Linked DNA regions of Homo sapiens. The protein of the gene in region 1 interacts with the protein of each later gene in a pairwise test. Each region holds a gene or a part of one and is shown on either strand. Other genes may lie near its edges.

Region 1 (3,523 bases):
ATATAACTATGTCCTGGAGATGTGTTTATAAATTGCTCACTCTAGCTTTCTCTCTTGTTCTTTTGACAGAGTTAAATTAGAAGAGAGAGGAGTTGCTGAGAATTCTGTAGTCATCAGTAATGGTGACATTAATTTATCTCTTAGAAAAGCAAAGAAGCGGGCATTTCAGTTAGAGGAGGGTGAAGAAACTGAACCAGATTGCAAATATTCAAAGAAGCATTGGAAGAGTCGAGAGAACAATAACAATAATGAGAAGGTCTTGGATCTGGAACCAAAAGCTGTCACAGATCAGACTGTCAGCAAAAAAAACAAGAGAAAAAATAAAGCAACCTGTGGCACAGTGGGTGATGATAACGAAGAGGCCAAAAGAAAATCACCAAAGAAAAAGGAGAAATGTGAATATAAAAAAAAGGCTAAGAATCCCAAGTCTCCGAAAGTACAGGCAGTGAAAGACTGGGCCAATCAGAGATGTAGTTCTCCAAAAGGTTCTGCTAGAAACAGCCTTGTTAAAGCCAAAAGGAAAGGTAGTGTAAGCGTTTGCTCAAAAGAGAGTCCCAGTTCCTCCTCGGAGTCTGAATCTTGTGATGAATCTATCAGTGATGGTCCCAGCAAAGTCACTTTGGAGGCCAGAAATTCCTCAGAGAAATTACCAACTGAGTTATCAAAGGAAGAACCCTCTACCAAAAATACAACTGCAGACAAACTGGCTATAAAACTTGGCTTTAGCCTTACCCCCAGCAAGGGCAAGACCTCTGGAACAACATCTTCCAGTTCAGACTCTAGTGCAGAGTCAGACGACCAATGCTTGATGTCATCGAGCACCCCGGAGTGTGCTGCGGGTTTCTTAAAGACAGTAGGCCTTTTTGCAGGAAGAGGTCGTCCAGGCCCAGGGCTGTCATCACAGACTGCAGGTGCTGCTGGATGGAGGCGTTCTGGCTCAAATGGTGGTGGACAGGCTCCTGGTGCTTCTCCCAGTGTGTCTCTCCCTGCTAGTTTAGGAAGAGGATGGGGTAGAGAAGAGAACCTTTTTTCTTGGAAGGGAGCTAAGGGACGGGGCATGCGGGGGAGAGGTCGAGGACGAGGGCATCCTGTTTCCTGTGTTGTAAATAGAAGCACTGACAACCAGAGGCAACAGCAATTAAATGACGTGGTAAAAAATTCATCTACTATTATCCAGGTAAGTATTATTTTTTGTAAGTTATCTCCTCCCTTTCCCCTTAGAATGTGTGTGGAGTTCATGTCATGGATTCACATTTTCTCACCAGTGATGATGTCACATGACTAACACTGTTTTTCAGAATCCAGTAGAGACACCCAAGAAGGACTATAGTCTGTTACCACTGTTAGCAGCTGCCCCTCAAGTTGGAGAAAAGATTGCATTTAAGGTATATTTCAAAAGAACAGTCACAGCAAAAAAGGTTCATTCCCCTTCCAAATAAACTTACTTAGAAAATCAGGTTAAATGTGTTTGTAAAAGCCCTTCCCACTGGAACCCCAGTGTTGTTACGGGTTCCTGGTAGGGCTCCCAGACTGGTCGGGGTGGACACGCCAACATGGCATGATGGAGGAGCTGTGGGAATGGGAGAGGATAAGAGGGCTTATGTATTTGTGGGTTTTTTCTTCTTTTTTAGCTTTTGGAGCTAACATCCAGTTACTCTCCTGATGTCTCTGACTACAAGGTAAGGATGTTTATTTAAAAGTAAGTTGTCAGTGTATTATTAAAACTAAAGTCATATTTAATACTACTTGTATGGATAATACAGATTTGTTTTTTTACTAAATAAAAATGCCAGAAAGTAGAAAATGAAAACATTAATCGAAATGTCAACTCTTTAATAGTATCACTGGGAAGTCTCCCTGTGTTATTTGCCTTATACTTGGGAAGAATAGAGTAGGAGAATGATGAGCTTAATTTTTACTTTTTTAAAAAAAATATATTAATTTTTTGTTTTTAAATAGCGACAGGATCTTGCTATGTTGCCCAGGTTGGTCTCAAACTCCTTGGCTCAAGCAATCCCCCCATCTTGGCTTCCCAAAGTGTTGGGATTACAGGTGTGAGCCACTATGCCCAGCCAGTTTAATTTTTTTAGTTACTTTTTTCTAATTAGTTTAGACCAACTTATTTGGGTATTCATTCCTTCATGATTCTAAACTTTGAAAGAAAATAATAAATAGTTCTCAGCAAGAAGATTTGATTATTTTCATCATGGGAATCTATTTTACATATTTGTGAATTACTTCTGGTTGTTATGATCTAGTATGATTTCTTCTGCATTATCAGGTAACCACAGGTAATTCATAAATATTATCCGTGGAATTTACTTACTTAATATCTGTATGAGTCTTTATATTGGCATGTGAGGTTTTTCATAGTTCAGTAAAAGCTTGACTCAGTCAGAGGGATCACAGAATTACATGTTTCTTTTTCACCCACCAACATTTTGTTGAAAATCTTGTTAAAGTGCATTCTTTCTTTTTTTTGATGTACTATATGGAATGTAAGACCATTTTTTAAGGTAATAATTGGTAGTGTTAATATAGTAACATAGATAAAATACAAGGGAATTTGATTTAATCTGGATTGATGCCTTGGAAGACTTAAAATCTTTATAGAAACCTTTCCTCAAGGCTGGGCTTGGTGGCTCCCACCTGTAATCCCAGCACTTTGGGAGGCCAAGGTGGGTGGATCACGAGATCAGGAGATTGAGACCATCCTGGCTAACACAGTGAAACCCCGTCTCTAGTAAAAATACAAAAAAAAAAATTAGCGGGGCATGGTGGCGGGTGCCTGTAGTCCCAGCTACTCAGGAGGCTGAGGCAGGAGAATGGCGTGAACCCGGGAGGCAGAGCTTGCAGTTAGCTGAGATCACACCACTGCACTCCAGCCTGGGTAACAGAGCGAGACTCCATCTCAAAAAAAAAAAAAAAAAAAATCTTTCCTCAAAAGCAGGCTGGAAGAATCAGTTAATGAAGGGATCTGGTGGGTTAGTTCTAGGTCGTTGGTGTTTTGTTTTTTATCTTCTTAGGCACTTACTATCTCCTATGGATGAGGTGATCATGTAATTTATCACCTGAATCAGGATACTTGTGAGTCAAAGGGATGCTATTAATAGTTATGCTGGAAAGATGTACAGACCTGTCTTGAACAAACCAGGGTGTTTTGTCACCCTACCATAGAAAACATTTAATTGTGTGATATATGAGGAAATGGAAATGAATATTGTATTGATACATCCCACAACCTCTATAAATTGTAATTCTAGATGATACTGATTTTTAAAAATTGCTTATTAATGGCCAGGCACAGTGGCTCATGCCTGTAATCCCAGCACTTTGGGAGGCCAAGGTAGGTGAATCACTTGAGGTCAGGAGTTCGAGACCAGCCTGGCCAACATGGCAAAACCCCATCTCTACTAAAAATATAAAAATGAGCCTGGCATGGTGGCGTGCACCTGTAGCCCCAGCTACTCAGGAGACTGAGGCACAAGAATCACTTGAACGCAGTAGGTGGGGGTTGCAGTGA
Region 2 (2,252 bases), on another chromosome or scaffold:
AATATTAAGGCTCTCAGTTGTTTCATTAATTCTAAAGGGTTAAAAAGGGCTGAAATTTGTTTATAGCACTAAATGTTTTTAATAGGAAATTTACTCACATAAAAAATTTAAGCAGAAGTAGTAGAATACAGATTATCATAAAACATATTTTCTATGAAAGGCATTTCTTCCTCATCTTCAATAAATATGAAGAAGTTAGAGGAGAGGAAAAAGCAATCACTCTAAGACAACTTTTCGTCTTTGAGGGACATTATGATAAGCCTGAAATTAATACGCACAGGCTATTGCATTTTTCTGTGAGAAATGTGCCCCTTTGCTGTGAGATTCTAAAATGTGTTCAGATTTAGTTTTTATTCAAATGATCAAGATAACGCATTAGTTAGATAACTGCTATTTCAGATAGTGAGGTTAGCTGAGAAAAGGAAGCATGGTAGAAGAAATGCAAATAACAATTCTTGGAATGCCAACTCCTGAGGCTTAGTTTAACCAAGCTAATTTGTTGGCCCAGGGATGGCCATCATATGAGTTTCCATCAATACCTGACTTCCATCAACAACTGAATCCATGTTCTGGAGTATTACAGAGACTGTTACTATGACCTCAAAGACTGTGGCTACGAATCTGAAGTTAACAAGACATACATCTTCTCTTACTAACTTAAGCCATATCTGTCAACTCTATGTTTGATTTTTCTGACCCTGGTGCTTTTACTTCTGTTTCTGCCAAACTTCAGCCTACTCTATGGGGAAGGTGAGTAAAACTAGTAGTTAGAACAAATATGAAGACTGAAAAAAACTAAACATACTCTTCATAATGAGATCCTGTTCAGAGAACAGTAGTGATCAAAGTGCAAACTGTTGGAAAATATGGATATATGTACATCTGTACATGTATATAGTGTATAATATGTATGTATATGTTATTGCTCATATGCAGAAATCTATCCATTTGCAGACAGCCCAGGTGGGTCAATGTTTCTAATGGAAAACCATTTAGGGCCATTCAAAACCATTAGGGCTAATTTGTGGAGACGAATTCTACTCATTCTGGAATTAATTTGCTGTCTTTTGACATCCACAAAGCCAAACTAACAAAGTGTGAAACATAAAGGGGCCATCATTTAGTTTATTCTGTTTATCTGGACTTATAACTATCTTTACATTTGAACTATTAATAGTTGATTTGCAAACTGTATTGGCATCTCTTGGTTTTGAGTGACCCCTGCCCCCCTCAAGTCTTTTGAGAATTTGGAGTGGGCTTCACTGGCCATTCAGACAAAGGGCCTTATTCATAAGTGGACAGGTTTCCCCATAGGGACCATCGCACATATACATATAAGTACATACTTCCATCAGGCTTGTAACAATTGATTTAAAATCACTCCACAGTATTGATAAATAGCTCTATATTTTCAAGGTGCAGAAGAATTCCACAGCCTTAATTATTTCAGTGTCTTGCTGGTCTGCCTTAAGTGTATCTTCTGGGTTTTTGGTTATTTTATTATTTTTAAATTTTTCTGCTGTTGTTCATTTTGTATGCACACAATGTCGTTTTGTAAAGGTAGGTTGTAAATATTTTATTTGTAAGTCAAAATCACTCATGTGTAATGTTGTAAAGTGATGACCTGCTGTCTTGTTACTGCTACAGTAAATGTTATAAGTTATGGATGAAACTTCAAAATGTACATCTCACATGTTATGCATTCCTATAAATATACTATACTAAAGATACTATATGGTTGTCTCTTTTTTCCTAATTAAACCTTTGTTCAAAGAAAAGAGTAATTTTTTTCTTTCTCCAAATATATGAAAGACTTAGAAAAGGTAAAAATATCACAGGATTATTACAACATGTTTGGCCCAGGATTTTAGAGAGAAAGCAACAATTTTGTGCCCTAGAGTATTCTAAGGCATTTACCCAAAAATGCCAAGGAAACCTCAGAGCCAGGTGTGGTGGCTAGCACCTGTAAATCCTAACACTTTGAAAGGCCAAAGTGGAAGGATCTCTTGAGCCCAGGAGTTTGACACCAGCCTGGACAAAATAAGGAGACACCCACGTCCCCCCAACCCCCCACATATTAAAAATTGTTTTAAAAATATTAACTGAGTGTGTTGGTGCATGCCTGTGATCCCATCTACTTGGGAGGCTGAGGTGGAAGCATCATCTGAACCCGGGAGGTAGAAGCTACAGTGAGCTGTGATTATGCTACCTCACTCTAGCCTGGGCAACAAAGTGAGACCAGACCCTATCTC
Region 3 (3,523 bases), on another chromosome or scaffold:
CCAGGCGGGTCTTGAACTCCTGACCTCAAGTGATCCGCCCACCTTGGCCTCCCAAAGTGCTGGGATTATAGGTGTGAGCCACTGTGCCTGGTCCATGTTTTCTTTATCCATTTGACTATCCATGGACATTTGAGTTTTTCCCCCTTATTGGCAATTCTTCTGCCTCAGCCTCCCAAGTAGCTGGGATTACAGACGTCTGCCACCACGCCCAACTAATTTTTGTATTTTTAGTAGAGACGGTTTCACCATATTGGCCAGGCTGGTCTTGAACTCTGACCTCAGGTGATCCACCCTCCTCGGCCTCCTAAAGTGCTGGGATTATAGGCATTTATTTACCGTTCTGCTTTCCCTTTGCTAGCAGGAATTTTCTTTCTCTCTCTCTCTCTTTTTTTTTTTTTTTTTTTTTTGCTTTATTGGGAGAAAAAGTGCTTAGAGTGTTCAGTTATTTTTTATATTTTTCTAATTCATTTCTTCTCTGGTTACAAATCAGTCATGCATGGATGTTTTATTTTTTCTGAAATCTCCAAGCACTTTAAGCAAAGGTTTTTATTAGCCCACTTGAGTAGTGTGTTCATGGGAGTATACTTCCATTGCGAAAGAAGTATTGGTTTACTTGTATCCAGAAGTTTTAGTTACTCTTGCCTGTACTGTATTCTAGGTCTGTACTAGCATTATAATTTTCCATCTTTCTCCTGTCCTTTGAGTACCTTATTTTTTCTTTTAGAAATTTGGTTTGTCTTTAATGGACTGAGAGGAATCTTTTCCTTTCTTTCTCCGGGTTCTGATTTTTTTTAAAGGTCTATTAACAATTTGTGCTTACTGTTGTTAGTATTCTTGTGTGCTTGGCTTTATCAGGCATCCTACAATGTAATGTTGGTTAGATGGGAATTAGAGGTGCTTGGAGGTTGGCTATGTCTGCCAACAGGCAGGAGGCCCCAAACTAACGTTTCCCAGTTCCATTAAAGGTTTCTAGAGCATAACTACTCTTCCTGTTTCATCTACCCCCTCCATACCCTCTTTGCTAACATTCTCAGTAGATCTTAATAAGCAGATGTCTGGAATTACAGCAGATTTTACCTCAAACAGTATTTTCAGATTTAGAATTTCTGTATCATTTTTAGGTGTTATGAAATCCAATCTAGGTGTAATGGAGTAAGAGAGTAAATATTTCTTTTTCCTAAATACTATTTGAAAAGAAGTCTGAAAATAGTGTGTTCCTCCACCCCCCCACCCATGCCCATCCTGCCAGTTTAGGAGCACTTTTGATTCTTTTTTTTCTTTTTCTTTTTTTTTTTGAGATGGAGTTTCACTCTTGTTGCCCAGACTGGAGTGCAATGACACAATCTCAGCTCACCACAACCTCTGCCTCCTGGGTTCAAGCGATTCTCCCGCCTCAGCCTCCCGAGTAGCCGGGATTATAGGTATGTGCCACCACACCTGGCTAATTTTGTATTTTTAGTAGAGACGGGGTTTCTTCATGTTGGTCAGGCTGGTCTCGAACTCCCGACCTCAGGTAATCCACCTGCCTCGGCCTCCCAAAGTGCTGGGAGCGAGCCACCATGCCTGGCCATGGAGCACTTTTGTTTCTTAATCTGGCCAATATTTTAAGGTTACAATTAGAATTACAGTTGTTTATATTTGTTCATTTAATGTAGTCAACATAATTTCCATACTTTGAACACTCTTACGGAATTGTTTATTTATAGAGACTAGTATAAAGTTGTTCTATCTTACTTAGTTTGAACTAATCCAGAGTTATACAATCTAGAAAGTAAAGAAAGTTTTTATTGTCTCTTAAATATCAATGTAATTGTAGAGTGTGAAATAATTTCTTGGGTTTCCTTGGTCCCGTGTTCTTCTGAGGCAGTGGTTCTTAACTGAGCAGTCACGTTAGAATCACCTGGGAAGCTTTTTAAAAAAAGAATCTGGGCTGGGCGCGGTGGCTCACGCCTGTAATCACAGCACTTTGGGAGGCCGAGGCGGGTGGATCATGAGGTCAGGAAATCGAGACCATCCTGGCTAACACAGTGAAACCCCGTCTCGACTAAAAATACAAAAAAATTAGCTGGGTGTGGTGGTGGGCGCCTGTAGTCCCAGCTACTCGGGAGGCTGAGGCAGGAGAATGGCGCGAACCCGGGAGGCGGAGCTTGCAGTGAGCCGAGATCGTGCCACTGCACTCCAGCCTGGGCAACAGAGTGAGACTCTGTCTCAAAAAAATAAAAATAAAAATAAATAAACAAATAAACAATCTGGCCGGGAACAGTGGCCTACGCCTGTAATCCCAGCACTTTGGGAGGCCAAGGCAGGCGGATCGCCTGAGGTCAGGAGTTCAAGACCAGCCTGGCCAACGTGGCGAAACCCCATCTCTACTAAAAATATAAAAATTAGCCAGGCGTGATGGGCACCTGTAATCCCAGCTACTCAGGAGGCTGAGTCCGGGAGAAGCACTTGAACCCAGGAGGCGGAGGTTGCATTGAGCCGAGATCGCGCCATTGCACTCCAGCCTGCAGCCTGGGCGACAGAGCGAGACTCTGTCTCAAAAAAAAAAAAAAAAGAATCTGTGCCTCACCCCTAGCAATTCAATTCTGTTTGGGCTAAGCCTGGGTTGGGACTCAGACATCAATACAGCTCTGCATAGAAGGTTTTACAGTATAGTCAGCAATAAGAACCTCTGTTTCAGGATAAAATGATTTCTACAAACATTGTTTCATTCTCTACATAATTAAATGTCACACCTCTACAGTCATGTGAAAGTTCCATTAAAAAGTTAGTCGCTATATAAAGTCTTTTATCATATGGCACTTGAAATATTTTGCTTTTGCCTTTGTATTTATAGCCATGAGTAAGTAGCTCAAAAAAGATGTACATATTCCTCTGCCAACTTTCCTGTCTCCTTGTCTGAATGAAAATTCATCATAAAGTCTCAGTGGTAAGCATTGACAGAGAAAATACCTAAGACTGTTTTCCTACAGAAACAGTCGTCTTGCTCTTTTTGTTCCTTTTTTATTAAGGATTCTTACAGCCTGAGAGAATGAAGAGCTGTGTAGTCCAGGATATCCGGCTGGCTACCATAGATCTGAGAGTCCAGTCTAGTACAGTAGATTTTTCTAAATACATAAGAATCAAAGATATGTATTGAATATCAAGCCAGCTTTAAACAAACATAGATACTAGTATAAAGTTGTTCCATCTTAATTTGAAGTAATCCAGAGTTACTACAATCTAGAAGGTAAAGAAGGTTTTTGTAATCTCTTAAATATCAATGCTAAAACTATTATGATAATGTATCACTTTGATAACAGATAAAACTTTTAAAAATGTAGCACTCATATTTTGATTCTGGTATTTATAAGTATAATAAAATACTTTATTTTTCCATAATTTCTCTCACATCTTAAAATTCTCACCAGAAATTCTCAAATGTAACTTCTAAGCTCTTTCTGTATTCATGGGAAACTTTAGCTATTTCACATACTAGAGAAAATAAAATAGACAGTCAAAGAATGATGAGCAAAGGCTATAC
Region 4 (2,972 bases), on another chromosome or scaffold:
TGAGTCCAGGCCTGCTTTTTGCATGTATTTAACTCTTTTGTGTCTCCTCAGCCAGCCCTAAGCACTAAGCATTCCTTTTTTCCTTAAGATGTACTGCTGTATTTTTGCTAAGTGTAAAATCACAGATGTCCTCAGTGGACACTTCAGAAAATACAGAATATAAATATTTACTTACTTTTTAAATCTTTTTTCTATATATGTTATATATTTGTAATTTATATATGCTTTTTTTTTTTCACTCAGCATTACCACAACAGGCATTTTCTTCTCTTTAAGATGCTTTATAAATATTTTCATCATAGTTTTTATCAAGTTGCACTATAATTTACTAACTTCCACATTCAGGCTGTTTTCAGTTCTAAATAATATGGTGATGAATAATTGTGCCTACGCTTGATTACTTTTAGATTATTTTCTAAAACAGAATCCCAGAAGTGGAATGACTGGGATGAGAATCATGAGGAGTTTTAAGATCCAGGTCTTCTGTGCAGTTATCTTTGAGGCTGTGACAGGTTATTTTTGGCTTTGGTTCCCTTTCCCCCAAATGGGGCTCCAGACTGTTTTCCTCTCCTTCACATATCCAGTGCTGTTCTATCACAGGACTTTCTGAGCCCATTACATTTCTTCCAGAAGATCCTGGGCCTGCACTGAGCTTGTTCCAGTTAGGTTTGCTGTGCTAGAGCTCAGTGTAGATGTAGGAGGCAGGGCTGGAGCTCCGAGTGAAGCCATCCTGGCCAGCGCTTGGCTAAGGTCCTTCTAGTTGGAGGCGGTCACTGCAGCTCCATGGGAACCTACATCCCATGGAGGTTCTTCATCCACATGGAGGAACTTCATCCACAAAACAAAGGGTTTGAGCTTCAGGAGCAGCAGCAGAACTCTTGTTTGCCGTGGGAGTTGGCAGCGAGCACTCCAGCTGGAGTGGTGGCAGCTTTGGCCAGGAGTATGCTGACCGGTGTAGTCAGTCCAGGGAACAAGAGGATGGCCCTGGAGGGGCTTTTTCAGTGTTGCTTCTTTTCTAGACAGAGGAGGATATCTTGGTCAGAAAAGAGCTTGAAGAAATTGCCAGGACTCACCCAGACCAGTTCAACCTGTGGTACACCCTGGACAGGCCTCCCATTGGTACGACATCCATTGCCCTCACTCACCATGGGTCAGCACCAACCCTTGACCACTTTGAGGACTGGTCTCTGTCTCTTTGTTTTGTTTTAGTTTTGTAGGACCAGATGTGGGGGTTAAGCCTGGGGCTCTGGCTCCAGATGGGAAATGTGAGAAATTGAGGGAGAAAGGATTTGGGATGGCCTGCTTTTAAGGGCAATCGAGAGCAGGTGTCTAATACATCAGCAGCACCTCACGCTGCACTGAACATCAAAAGGGACACTGCCCCTGTCCACTGTGAACACCCACCCATTCCACACAGCCATCACATACACATCTAATATGGGCACTGACCCCTTCACCACTCACCCTTCTGCTTACGGCCACCACACCCCTTACCGCCCACCTCACCTGGACATGCTGAGCCCCCAGACAGCTGCTGCAGCCCAGACAGCATCCCAGCAACCACTGTGCACAGAGCACCCCACAGGCGCGCCTCTCACACTGCTCCCGGCTGTACCTGCTTGTCATACAGGTCCCTGGTCGGCAGAGGGCGCTACCCTACTGAGCAATTCTGCGCAGTTCCACTAACACCAGGCCACACCCTGCCGGACAACTCCAGCTGGCTGTACTGATTCACACACCTCGGTATACCTCGTTGTGTTCTCCTTCCTCGTCAATGCTGACAGCTGACAGACAGCAGCAGGGCTTCAGGGTCCCTGCAGTGAGCCTGGGACCTGGGGTGATTGCTGCAGAGGGCTGTTTACTAGTTCTGAGGCTTTTTGCAGGGAGCAGTAGTACAGACTTCTAAGCCTTTGTAGAGCAGCTTGTCACCTCCTCCCTGGCTGAGGGTGGGTGTGCAGGCGGCCTGGGATCAGGAACTCCACCTGGCATCGCTCAGCTTGCTCCTGCATCTCCTTCATTTCAGGCTGGAAGTACAGCTCAGGCTTCGTTACTGCCGACATGATCAAGGAGCACCTTCCTCCTCCAGCGAAGTCCACGCTCATCCTGGTGTGTGGCCCGCCACCACTAATCCAGACGGCGGCTCACCCTAACCTGGAGAAGCTGGGTTATACCCAGGACATGATTTTCACCTACTAACACCTCCACGTGCTCAGCAATTTTGCATGTCCCTTTTCATCTGTTTCAGAGTAAGTTCAATTTCACCACGGTAAACTGGGATGTTTTCAAAAGTGCCTTGCCATGTACCTTCGCGCACACACTGGTTCTCCTCTTTTGGGTGTGGGCCTAACAAAAAGGGCTCAAGGGGCTGGAGACTGGCTGCTGGGGCCTCCTTGCTTGGAGGCTGGAAAGAGCTCCATTTCAGTATCTTTCTCCGTGGTTTTGTGAAATAAACTCAAGTACAAAGCAGACAGCCCATGAAGTGTGGCTCTGTGGGGGACGTGCTAGGCAGTCAGGAGGCCGTGGCCTGGCCTGTGAGTTGGCTTCTGCATGCCCATGGGGGTCACAACTGGCAAGTGTCGGGGCAGTTCCTAAAAAACTCCAAGTGGGGTCACATCAACTCTCAAGAATCTCTCCATGGCACTAGGGGTCATGGTAGGAGTGGTTACACACAGAAACTTCTCAACTTTCAAAGTCAGGTTCCAGAAACTGCCTTAAATCCTTTGTATCATGAAACCCAAACGAGGGTCTGTCGGGGTGGGGGGGAGGGACAGCCAACCTCACCCATCCCCCTGTTCACTGTCTCCTTGGGGATCCTTCACTGCTTTCAAGGGAGACCCCACTCTGGCCACCCCCATCTCTCCAGGACACACTCCAGGGCCTGGCTCCCAAGGCCCTTCTTGGTTTGCTCCTGCCGACTTTATCAGATTTTTCTTTCCCTGGGCCCCCAACTCCGACCCCATTCTCTCACCTAC
Region 5 (3,217 bases), on another chromosome or scaffold:
ACTCTAGATTTGAGCTGTTCAGTAGCCATTAACCACTGTGACTATTACATTAAATAGAATTAAACATTTAGTTCCTGCTGGGTATGGTGGCTCACGCCTATAATCCCAGCACTTTGGGAGGCCAAGACTGGAGGATCACTTGATCCTAGGAGTTTGAGACCAGCCTAGGCAACATAGTAAGACCCTATCTATCTCTTAAGAAAAAAATTAGCTGGGCATAGTGGCACACACCTGTAGTCCCAACTACTCAGGAGGCTGAGGTGGGAGGATCACTTGAGCCCAGGATGTTGAGGCTGCAGTGAGCCATGATCATGCCACTGCACTCCAGCTTGGGCAACAGAGGGAGATTGTGTCAAAAAAAAAAAAAAAATTCAGTTCCCATGTCATAGCAACACTTCAAGTGCTCATTAGCTGCCATATTGGATGGCTCTGATATAGAACATTTCCAGCATTACAGAAAGTTCTATTGGCCAGCATTGTTCTAGACATTGAGAAACATTATTTTCAAGTGGTCATAATTTTAATGGTAAAATTAGGACATAAAAATAATTTTCAAAGAATTATTTTCAAAGAACACTAGACATAAAATATAACAATTTTCAAATTTTCAAAGAATACTAGAAGAAAAAAATTATACAGTCAATCCAACAAAAAGCTTAATAGAAAAAAACCCTAAACAATAGTATAACTACAAATAAAATAGGGCTTCCGAATTATGTCTAAATAATACAATAATTACAAATATGAATGGGTTAAATTAGCCTATTAAAAGATAAAACCACTCAGATAACAAAAACAGACATAAGAAACACTAACATAAAACACAAAGAATTAAAATGAAGATATAGCAAGCAAATAATAGAAAGCTTGCAACCCAGCTATAGCTATAAACACAAAAAATGAAGTTATCTTTTGACCTAATAATTCCATTCCTAATACTTAGAAATATTTGCACATGTGCACAATAATACTTAAAGGATCTCAACACTGTTTTTTTTTTTTTTTGAGACAGTCTTGCTCCGTCACCCATGCTCGAGTGCAGTGGCGTGATCTCGGCACACTGCAGCCTCTGCTTCCTGGGTTCAAGTGATTCTCCTGCTGCAGCCTCCCAAGTAGCTGGGATTACAGGTGCACGTCATTATGCCCGGGTAATTTCTGTATTTTTTAGTAGAGATGGTGTTTCACCATGTTGGCCAGGCTGGTCTTGAACTCCTGACCTCTGGTGATCTGTCTGCCTTGCCTCCCAAAGTGCTAGGATTACGGGCCTGAGCCACCTTGCCTGGCCTGCAAAATTTGTTTTTAATAGAAGACACAAGAAATGATTTAAATATTTTATCAACAGAAAACCAGTTCTATCAACTATGGGCCCAGTATGCAGCTTTTAAAAATGACAGTTCTATATACATTGATATGAGACCATTTCAAACAGGTATTCAATAAAGTATAGAATGGTAACATATCACCAACTGTGTAAAGAAAAATATATAAACATATGAAATGATACATTCTGTGCCTATGCAAACATATGATACATTAAAAACAAAAGAACATATAGTGCCTGTCTCTGAGGGGAACTGTGAAGCTATGGAAAGGTGTTGAAGAAAACCTTTTTATAGTATGTATTCTTGTAATTGAATAAAAAATAAAATTACAAAAATCAGGCTTGGAAGTATTTAATAGCAGACAAAATATAGTTCAATATGAAAAGCATTATATGAGACAAAGGCAATTTTCAAAAATTGATAAAACATTCCACCAAAAATCATGACTACGCATCTAACAGCTTCAAAATATAGAAAATACTCAAATGCAAAATCAACAAATCTGCAATTACAGAAAAAGACTTCAACATACTTTTAGAAAGTAGTAACTCAAGTAGACAATAATAGCTAACACTTACCGGGCACTTCTTATGTGAGTGGCACTGAAACATGTGCTTTCATGCATTACCTAAGGCTAGAGAAAATGTTAATAACTTAGACAAGTCATACATGTATCATAAATATCTTTGTACCTGACAAACAGAATAAACATCTTTTTAAACACCATTAGATAATTATTTAAAGACCACATATTGGGAACCTACCCCTAAAGAACAATAACAACCACAATAACAACTATCACCCCAGTAAACATGGCTGGCAAGAATACAATTAAATGAACATTATCACTGATTTGGCAACAGCTCTTATGAAGAATAATTTGGCATTATGTATCAAGTGCCCATACTCTTTGACAAAGTAACTGTCTTTCTGATAATCTATCTTAAGTAATACAAAAATGGGGGGAGGGGAATAAAAATACAAAATATTAGAAACACTATCGTCAAAATGAAAGGGCATGGCTGAGTATGGTACAACCGTTCAACAGAATATTGTCATTAAAAACATTTATGGAGGCTATATTATATAGTCAATAACAGAAAATGCTTGAAAGGTTAGAAGTACATCATCAAATTATGTTTTATATAGCTGTAAAATAAACCCAAATCATCTTTAATGAACACATACTATTATGGTAAAAAAAAGTCTACAATTTCTAACTTTCACCTTAGGCAGCTTTTTATTTTGCATCCTTTTTTTCAACTTTGTCTTCTATTAGCTGTGCAAGAAATACATGTCTGCTAAAGTTACACGATCTTCGCACAACAGCAACCTACACATTAGTCTACAAAGGGGAACAAACCCAAATTCCTCAGAAGTCTGAGTCCACTGTTGCCTTCTTTCTGGCCATCTGGCAGTTACAATATAGCACAGAATGACTATGCAAGTTAAATATTCATCTTAGACATGGACATTTGCTTTGGGACTCCTAAAGTGGAGTCAAATTTGATCTCTACAGAAACTCTACAATGTAGCAGAGCACTGTGCGTACTTATTGACTCCCAGACAAGCCGAAACCCCGAATTTGTCATTTCTATCAGTTTTTATATAAATTGTTCTTACCTACTTATTGATGCTTACAATTTGGCAATTATAAGGGGCAAAATTGGAGCAAGTGTTTTGGGTAAATAACTCCTTACAATATATTAAAAATACTTACAAACAATTCTTAGAATCAAACACTTACGTAAATACTTTTTTAAAAAAATAGGTCCAAAAGACTCAGCCCAGATCGGCTTTGAAGTTATATCAAGATTTAAGTCTACTTCATGCCAATGAGCTACTCCTCAACAGGGGCTGGTTTTGCCATTTGAGGAATGACAGCCACTATGTTG
Region 6 (3,523 bases), on another chromosome or scaffold:
ATGGCTGCATAATATTTCATTTCTTGGTTGTACCATAATTTACATAACAATTATTTGGCAGTTAGATTGGCATAATTTTTTTGGGGGGGGACAGTGTCTAGGCTTTGTCTCCCAATCTGGAGTGGAGTGGTGCAATCTCGGCTCACTACAACCTCTGCCTCCCAGTTCAAGCGATTCTCTTGCCTCAGCCTCACCAGTAGCTGGGACTAGAGGCGCATGTCACCATGCCTGGCTAATTTTTGTATTTTTGGTAGAGGTGGGATTTCGCCATGCTAGCCAGGCTGGTCTTGAACTCCTGACCTCAGGTGACCCACCCACCTTGGCCTCCCAAAGTGCTGGGATTATAGGTGTGAGCCACCATGCCCGGCCTTGATTGGCCTGATTTTTTACTATTATCTGTGATGTTATTTTGAACATATTTATACTTAAAATTTGATTTGCGTATCTGATTATGTTCTTTGGGTAGAGTCCTTGAAAATCCTTATTTGTAGTAATTATAGTAACCACTAGTTTATTAATACTTCACATGAAATAGTCACTATGTTAAGTAAACACTTTATATATATGATTTTAAGACTTTCAGCTATAATCTTGTGGAGTAGTCAGTCAGACAAGGTTCTTCTATTAAGATTCACCAGGCTGGGTGCCGTGGCTCACACCTGTAATCCCAGCACTTTGGGAGGCCGAGGCAGGCAGATCACCTGAGGTCAGGAGTTCGAGACCAGCCTGGCCAACATGGCGAAAACCTGTCTCTACTAAAAATGCAAAAATTAGCAGGGCGTGGTGGTGTGTGCCTGTAATCCCAGCTATTTGGGAGGCTGAGGCAGGAGAATTGCTTGAACCGGGGAGGTGGAGGTTGCGGTGAGCCGAGATTGTGCCATTGCATTCCAGCCTGGGTGACAAGAGCAAAACTTAGTCTCAAAAAAAAAAAAAAAAAAAATTCACCAATCTTAGACTTTATGCAGTAGCCAAGCAAACCTTTTTCTCCACTATTGCTGTGAACTTTCATATTTACTATGTTCCCAGACTGGGTAGTGACTCCTCTTTCTACAATCTTCCTTAAAATTGAGGAAACTTTAACTAACATAAATCATTTCTCTTTTGCTAGCTCTGTGTTCTTTGAAGCAGTTAATGAATTTAGTTCCTCACAGTAGCTTTTGTTAGCATTAGATCTGTACTTTTATTTTGTTTGCATTTGTAAAGCATTTTTCTATTTCCTCTATCAGATTGTAAGTTCTTCAAGATCAAAAAGAGGAAAAGTGTTTTTTGTAGGTATTCATAATGCCTGGTAAAGGTTTTGCTGTTAATAGTTGCTAAAAAAATACTGCCAACTGGTTTGGCTAGCTAGCGGTACTGAAGCCTTGCTGTTGTATTCTTTTCAGGTGCACTGTATTAGCACAGAGTTCACTATGAGGAAACATGGTGGAGAAAAGGGGGTGCCATTCCGAGTACAAATAGATACCTTCAAGGAGAATGAAAACGGGGAATATACTGAGCACTTACACTCGGCCAGCTGCCAGATCAAAGTTTTCAAGGTATTCCTGGGCAATGTGCTGGCCCTTGGATTCTTTTACCTTATCATTCTATTTTAACATTAGTTACCAAGTCAGAAAATCAACTTGTCTTTTTTTGAAAACTCACACACACGCAAAAAGTCTAAGCTAGAGTCATTGAAATAATTACCAAGATGCCTGGTAAAGAAATTTACATGGTCGTAGGATAATAGGAACTTGGAAAAGAGGGCTAGAGGCAAGAACATGGATTCTCATTGAAAGCTCTTAAAGCCTATTGAAGTTACAAGCTCTTGTAAAGCTCACAAAAATTGACTAGTTATGGTTATTTTCATACTTGATCTTTTCTTATTTGGTCTTATTTATTTATTTATTTATTTTTGAGACTGGGTTTCATTTTGTCACCCAGGCTGGAGTGCAGTGACGCAATCATAGTTTAACCTCCTGGGCTCAATTGATCTTCCTGCCTCAGCTTCCCCAGTAAGTGGGACTACAGGCATGTGCCACCACACCGGGCTAATTTTTGTATTTTTTATAGAGAGGGGGTCTTGCCATGTTGCCCAGGCTGGCCTTGAACTCCCGGGCTTAAGTTATCTGCCCTCCTTGGCCTCCCAAAGTACTGGGATTACAGGTGTAAGCCACTGTGCCCCAGCCAGGGTCCTGTTTATTTTTATCACATGAATAAATATGTTCTCATTGTAAGAGATTGAATAATACAGAGGTATTCATAGCAACACTGAAATTCTCCCTTTACTACTCTTACACTGACCCCCTCCACAACCTCTTCCCAGAGGAAACCACTGTCATAATTTCATAATTTCGTATGTGTTCTTCTACTTCCCTCTTCTTTTTTTTTTTTGAGTCGGAGTTTCACTCTGTCACCCAGGCTGGAATGCAGTGGTGCAGTGCCAGCTCACTGCAACCTCCGTCTCCTGGGTTCAAGCTGTTCTCACGCCTCAGCCTCCCCAGCACCTAGGACTACAGGCACACACCACCATGCCCAGCTAATTTTTTGTATTTTTAGTAGAGACAGGGTTTCGCCATGTTGGCCAGGCTGGTCTCGAACTCCTGACCTCAGGCAATCCGCCTGCCTCGGCCTCCCAAAGTGCTGGGATTACAGGCATGAGCCACTGCGCCCAGCTCTTCTAGTTCCTTCCTATGCTTTTATACACACACATACATAGCTATATACATATTTTCTTTGACACATAAATGGGATTATACTATTTGAAATGTTTTGAGGCTAGGCACGGTGGCTCATGCCTGTAATCCCAGCACTTTGGGAGGCCGAGGTGGGCGGATCACAAGGTCAGGAGTTTAAGACCAGCCTGACCAAAATGGTGAAACCCCGTCTCTACTAAAGATAAAAAATTAGCTGGGTGTGGTGGCGGACGCCTGTAGTCCCAGCTACTGGGGAGGCTGAGGCAGGAGAATAATTTGAACCCTGGAGGCGGAGGTTGCAGTGAGCCAAGATCTCGCCACCGCATTCCAGCTTGTGTGACAGGATGAGACTCCGTCTCAAAAAAAAAAGAAAGAAATGTTTTGAGACTTGATTTTTTTCAGTGAACTATGTGCTTTAGAGATCTTTCCATGTCAGTAGCTATAGATCTGATTCTTTTCAACTCCATCGAATATAAACATTTAAATTTCCTATTTTCAAACTTAAAGTGATGTGTCTTGCCTTTACATCACTGCACATACAATTTTGTTTCATACATGAATATTTAAGTTTTTGGAAGCAATATTTTGGGTTAAAAGGTGAGTACCTGAATTTAAAACAAAATATTTCTCATTTCAGCCCAAAGGTGCAGACAGAAAGCAAAAAACGGATAGGGAAAAAATGGAGAAACGAACACCTCATGAAAAGGAGAAATATCAGCCTTCCTATGAGACAACCATACTCACAGAGGTAAAAAGATTTCTTTTGGTGACAATTTCAGTTCATAATTTTTAATCTTAAAAATTCATCACTTCCAAACTGGTCAGAATTTACTTCTCCTAAGCCTTGAGGG
Region 7 (3,523 bases), on another chromosome or scaffold:
GAGAAGATATACCTACTATGTATACCCACAAAAATTAAAATAAAAATTTTTAAGTGTTTGCTATTTTAAAAAAAAAGAAAAAAAGAAAACCCAGAGAAGTCTTCAGGGGGCTCAGGGATGGCTCCTCAGAGATAGCAACGACTAAATTGAGACCCGAAGGAGGAACCCCAGGGATCAGTAGAAGACATGAGAGAAAAAGTAACCCAGCAGAGGCAACAGTGTGGTGAAGGCCCAGAGGACTGATCCACGGCAGCAGAGTTGCTGAGAGTCCTGTTGGGTGGGGTGCTGGCTTTGAGGTGGGAGGTGGTGGGGGGTTGCTGCAGAGGTCACCAGGGGCCTGAGCTGCTGGGCACTGTGGGGCTGAGTCCAGGTAGCTGACTTTTCTTAGAGTGATGTCAGAACCCAACAATTCAGGGTCAGAAGAGGGACAGAAGAGGGGGCCATCCAGCCTTTTGTCCCCCTTCTCAACCACCCACTGAAAAGCATCCACTGTGTGCCTACTGTGAACCCTGGGGTCAGTCCCTGTGGGACCCAGGGAGGCCTGCGATACGGTGGCGAGATGGTGAGAGAGGACCTGGAATCAGCCAAACATGGGTTTTCATTCCAACTCCAAGACGTGCCACTGTGTGGCTCTGGGCAGTCAGAGCTCCCTGTTAGTGGAGCGAGGACAGCAGCAGTGCCTTCCCCATGCCACGCCGAGGACAGGGAGTGACAAGGACACAGACCCTGGCCCCAGTCCCCAGTCTGCCAAGGAGGCACGTGTGGGAGATCACAGCAGTTACATGTAAAAAGAGGTGCAGGGGCCAGGCCTGGTGGCTCACGCCTGTAATCCCAGCACTCTGGGAGGCCAGGGTGGGTGGATCACAAACAAGGTCAGGAGTTCGAGACCAGCCTGGCCAACATGGTGAAACCCCATCTCTACTAAAAATACAAAAAGAAAGCAGCCCGGTGTGGTGGCAGGTGCCTGTAATCCCAGCTGCTCGGGAAGCTGAGGCAGGAGAATTGCTTGAACCTGGGAGGCGGAGGTTGCAGTGAGCACAGATAGCACCACTGCACTCATGCCTGGGCAGCAGAGAGAGACTCTGTCTCGGGGGGAAAAAGAGATGCGGGGCACCCCCACTCCACACGTGGCCTCTGCGTGTCCCCTTGTCCCTCCGAATGACCCACTGTCTCCCCACAAGGCCCTCCAGGAGCGCCGGGCCCGCTGCGAGACGCAGAACATTGACCCCGTGGTGTGGACCAACCAGCGGGTGCTCAAGTGGGTTCGAGACATCGACCTGAAGGTGAGGGTGATAGCGGAGGTCGGGGTGACTCTCGGGCATACACAAACCCCATGCAAATCTATATGCAAATCAATATGCAAATCACATGCAAATCAATATGCAGATCTCATGCAAATCAATGGGCAAATCCCACACAAATTAATATCCCCTTTGTGTGGGCTGGAGCATCTTAACTCAGGCCCAGCAAGAATTACCTGCCTCCTGTTATTCAGGAGGAGGGAACTGCTTACCTTCCAAATAGGAGCCCCATGTCATGATGCTTTGCTCACATGGGGTAGAGAGGCTGAGCCAGCCCCACTCTCCTAAGCAAGTGTGGGGTTGAGATTCATTTAACAAATATTGATGATTTCCTGCTAGGGTCAGGGACCATCTCAGTAACAGGAGGTCCCTGACCTCGTGGCTCTAAAAAATTGGGGAGGGGTTCCTCTTCACCGTCAAATTAACTGGTCCCCAGGGGGTCAAGCCCTTGCTGTTGGGGACAGAGCCCCACGTGGAACTGGGGCCCCCTTAGGCCAGCAGCATGGCCCCTGCAGGCTAACAAGTCCCCTGCCTTTGCCCCCAGGAGTACGCAGACAACCTGACCAACAGCGGCGTCCATGGTGCTGTGCTGGTGCTGGAGCCCACATTCAATGCCGAGGCCATGGCCACTGCCCTGGGCATCCCCAGTGGGAAGCACATCCTCCGGAGACACCTGGCAGAGGAGATGAGCGCCGTCTTCCACCCAGCCAAGTGAGCACGGGCTGGGATCCAGTCATGTGGGCTGCTGGGTACAGTACAGCTCAGGGCTTTGGAAGCAGATGGTCCAGCTCCCCATCCTGGCCCATCACTTACTGCCTCCCACTCGTTCTTTGCACCATGGTGGTCACCTTTTACAGATCAGGAAACTAAGGCTCAGAGAAGCAAAGTGCTTTAGCCTGAAGGTCATAGACTAGAAAGACGTAGAGGAGCAGTCAGGTCTTGAATTAAGTGTATATTAGATCAAAAAACACCCAGGTGTTTAGAGAAGAGATAGCAAGCAGTGCATGTGTAAGGAAAGGCCACGTGCAGGTGGAGTGTAGCTGGGAGGACTTGCATTGGCCTAATAGGTTGAGTTGGTTGGTCCAGGTGGGGCAACTGTGGGGACAAAGGCTTGGAGTCAGGAATGAGCATATTAATGATGCTTATGGACCAGGTAAGCAGACCACATCAGCCCACCTATCCTAGTATCCCCATCTGAAAAGTGACCAGAGAATGAACACCTGGGCATAAACCAGTCCCCCTCCCAGTGGATTCTCTTCTTAAAATCATGCACTTAGGGTTAGATGACCATTTATTGAATACTTCCTGTGTGAACTATCTAATTTCATCCTCCTGGCAATGTCAAGAGATCAGTAGCACTATCCCTCCTTTATAGATGGAGAAACTTCTTCAAAGGTACCAAGCTATGTGCCCAAGATACACAGCTAGTAAGTGGCAAATCCTAGATTTGTCCTTTATTCTATCAATATGGTGTATTATATTGATTGATTGAATTTCATATGTCAAACCAACCTTGCATTCCCAGGATAAATCTCACTTGGTCACAGTGTATAATCCTTTTTATATATTGCTGGATTAAATTTGTTAGTACTTTGTTGAAAAAATCTGCATCTATATTTATAAGGGATATTGGTCTATAGTTTTCCCTCCTTGTGATGTTTTTGTCTGATTTTGGTATCAGGGTAATATAGCCCTCATAGCATGAATTGGGAAGTATTCTCTCCTCTTCTGGGTTTTGGAAAAGCTTGGAAGGATTGGTGTTTGTTATTCTTTAGACATTTGGTAGAATTCACCAGCGAAGCCATCTGGTCTTAGGCTTTTCTTTCTGGGAAGCTTTTTGACTTCTAATTCAATCTCTTCACTTGTTAGAGGTCTGTTCAGATTTTCTATTTCTTCTTGAGGCAGTTTCAGTAGCTTATATCTTTCTAGGAATTTGTCCATTTCATCTAGGTTAGCTAATCTGGTGGCATGCAGTTGATCATATAATTTTTATCTTATAGTGCCTCTTATATATAAAGTTGGTAGTCATATTCTCTCACTCATTCACTTACTCCTGGTTTTAGTGATCTGAGTTTGAGTTTTGTTTTTTTTTTTAATCAGCCTATCTAAAGGTTTGTTGGTTTTGTTGACAGAGCCCAGATTTGACCTTGGGGCTCTCTAACTCAGGCCTGAGTCCTAAACCCCTAAACCACATGGATCCTTAGGGAGCAGCTGGGCCACTC

Evidence for each region.
Region 2: the proteins of COIL (region 1) and KALRN interact in a two-hybrid assay, tested with the Homo sapiens proteins (one large-scale study listed by BioGRID and IntAct).
Region 3: the proteins of COIL (region 1) and ZBTB25 interact in a two-hybrid assay, tested with the Homo sapiens proteins (one large-scale study listed by BioGRID and IntAct).
Region 4: the proteins of COIL (region 1) and CYB5R2 interact in a two-hybrid assay, tested with the Homo sapiens proteins (one large-scale study listed by BioGRID and IntAct).
Region 5: the proteins of COIL (region 1) and PREPL interact in a two-hybrid assay, tested with the Homo sapiens proteins (one large-scale study listed by BioGRID and IntAct).
Region 6: the proteins of COIL (region 1) and TFCP2 interact in a two-hybrid assay, tested with the Homo sapiens proteins (one large-scale study listed by BioGRID and IntAct).
Region 7: the proteins of COIL (region 1) and KAZN interact in a two-hybrid assay, tested with the Homo sapiens proteins (one large-scale study listed by BioGRID and IntAct).

The regions. Positions count from the first base shown.
Region 1 is NC_000017.11:56,947,543-56,951,065, reverse strand, and holds part of COIL (coilin), read left to right. Parts: intron 1-69; coding exon 70-1,177; intron 1,178-1,298; coding exon 1,299-1,385; intron 1,386-1,631; coding exon 1,632-1,679; intron 1,680-3,523. UniProt on the Homo sapiens protein: Component of nuclear coiled bodies, also known as Cajal bodies or CBs, which are involved in the modification and assembly of nucleoplasmic snRNPs.
Region 2 is NC_000003.12:124,724,593-124,726,844, forward strand, and holds the end of KALRN (kalirin), read left to right. Parts: 3' UTR 1-1,733; downstream 1,734-2,252. UniProt on the Homo sapiens protein: Promotes the exchange of GDP by GTP. Activates specific Rho GTPase family members, thereby inducing various signaling mechanisms that regulate neuronal shape, growth, and plasticity, through their effects on the actin cytoskeleton.
Region 3 is NC_000014.9:64,497,339-64,500,861, reverse strand, and holds part of ZBTB25 (zinc finger and BTB domain-containing protein 25), read left to right. Parts: intron 1-408; exon of another isoform or gene 409-1,421; intron 1,422-2,869; exon of another isoform or gene 2,870-2,929; intron 2,930-3,523. UniProt on the Homo sapiens protein: May be involved in transcriptional regulation.
Region 4 is NC_000011.10:7,664,598-7,667,569, reverse strand, and holds the end of CYB5R2 (NADH-cytochrome b5 reductase 2), read left to right. Parts: intron 1-265; exon of another isoform or gene 266-958; coding exon of another isoform or gene 959-1,015; intron 1,016-1,019; coding exon 1,020-1,119; coding exon of another isoform or gene 1,120-1,183; intron 1,184-1,630; coding exon of another isoform or gene 1,631-1,730; exon of another isoform or gene 1,731-1,743; intron 1,744-2,023; coding exon 2,024-2,196; 3' UTR 2,197-2,466; downstream 2,467-2,972. UniProt on the Homo sapiens protein: NADH-cytochrome b5 reductases are involved in desaturation and elongation of fatty acids, cholesterol biosynthesis, drug metabolism, and, in erythrocyte, methemoglobin reduction.
Region 5 is NC_000002.12:44,317,106-44,320,322, forward strand, and holds the end of PREPL (prolyl endopeptidase-like), read right to left. Parts: coding exon of another isoform or gene 3,094-3,217; 3' UTR 1,091-3,093; coding exon of another isoform or gene 1,013-1,090; 3' UTR 502-1,012; downstream 1-501. Other genes in the region: amino acid transporter heavy chain SLC3A1, read left to right, coding at 3,094-3,217. UniProt on the Homo sapiens protein: Serine peptidase whose precise substrate specificity remains unclear. Does not cleave peptides after a arginine or lysine residue. Regulates trans-Golgi network morphology and sorting by regulating the membrane binding of the AP-1 complex.
Region 6 is NC_000012.12:51,107,133-51,110,655, reverse strand, and holds part of TFCP2 (alpha-globin transcription factor CP2), read left to right. Parts: intron 1-1,382; coding exon 1,383-1,535; intron 1,536-3,309; coding exon 3,310-3,420; intron 3,421-3,523.
Region 7 is NC_000001.11:15,102,178-15,105,700, forward strand, and holds part of KAZN (kazrin), read left to right. Parts: intron 1-1,181; coding exon 1,182-1,283; intron 1,284-1,845; coding exon 1,846-2,012; intron 2,013-3,523. UniProt on the Homo sapiens protein: Component of the cornified envelope of keratinocytes. May be involved in the interplay between adherens junctions and desmosomes. The function in the nucleus is not known.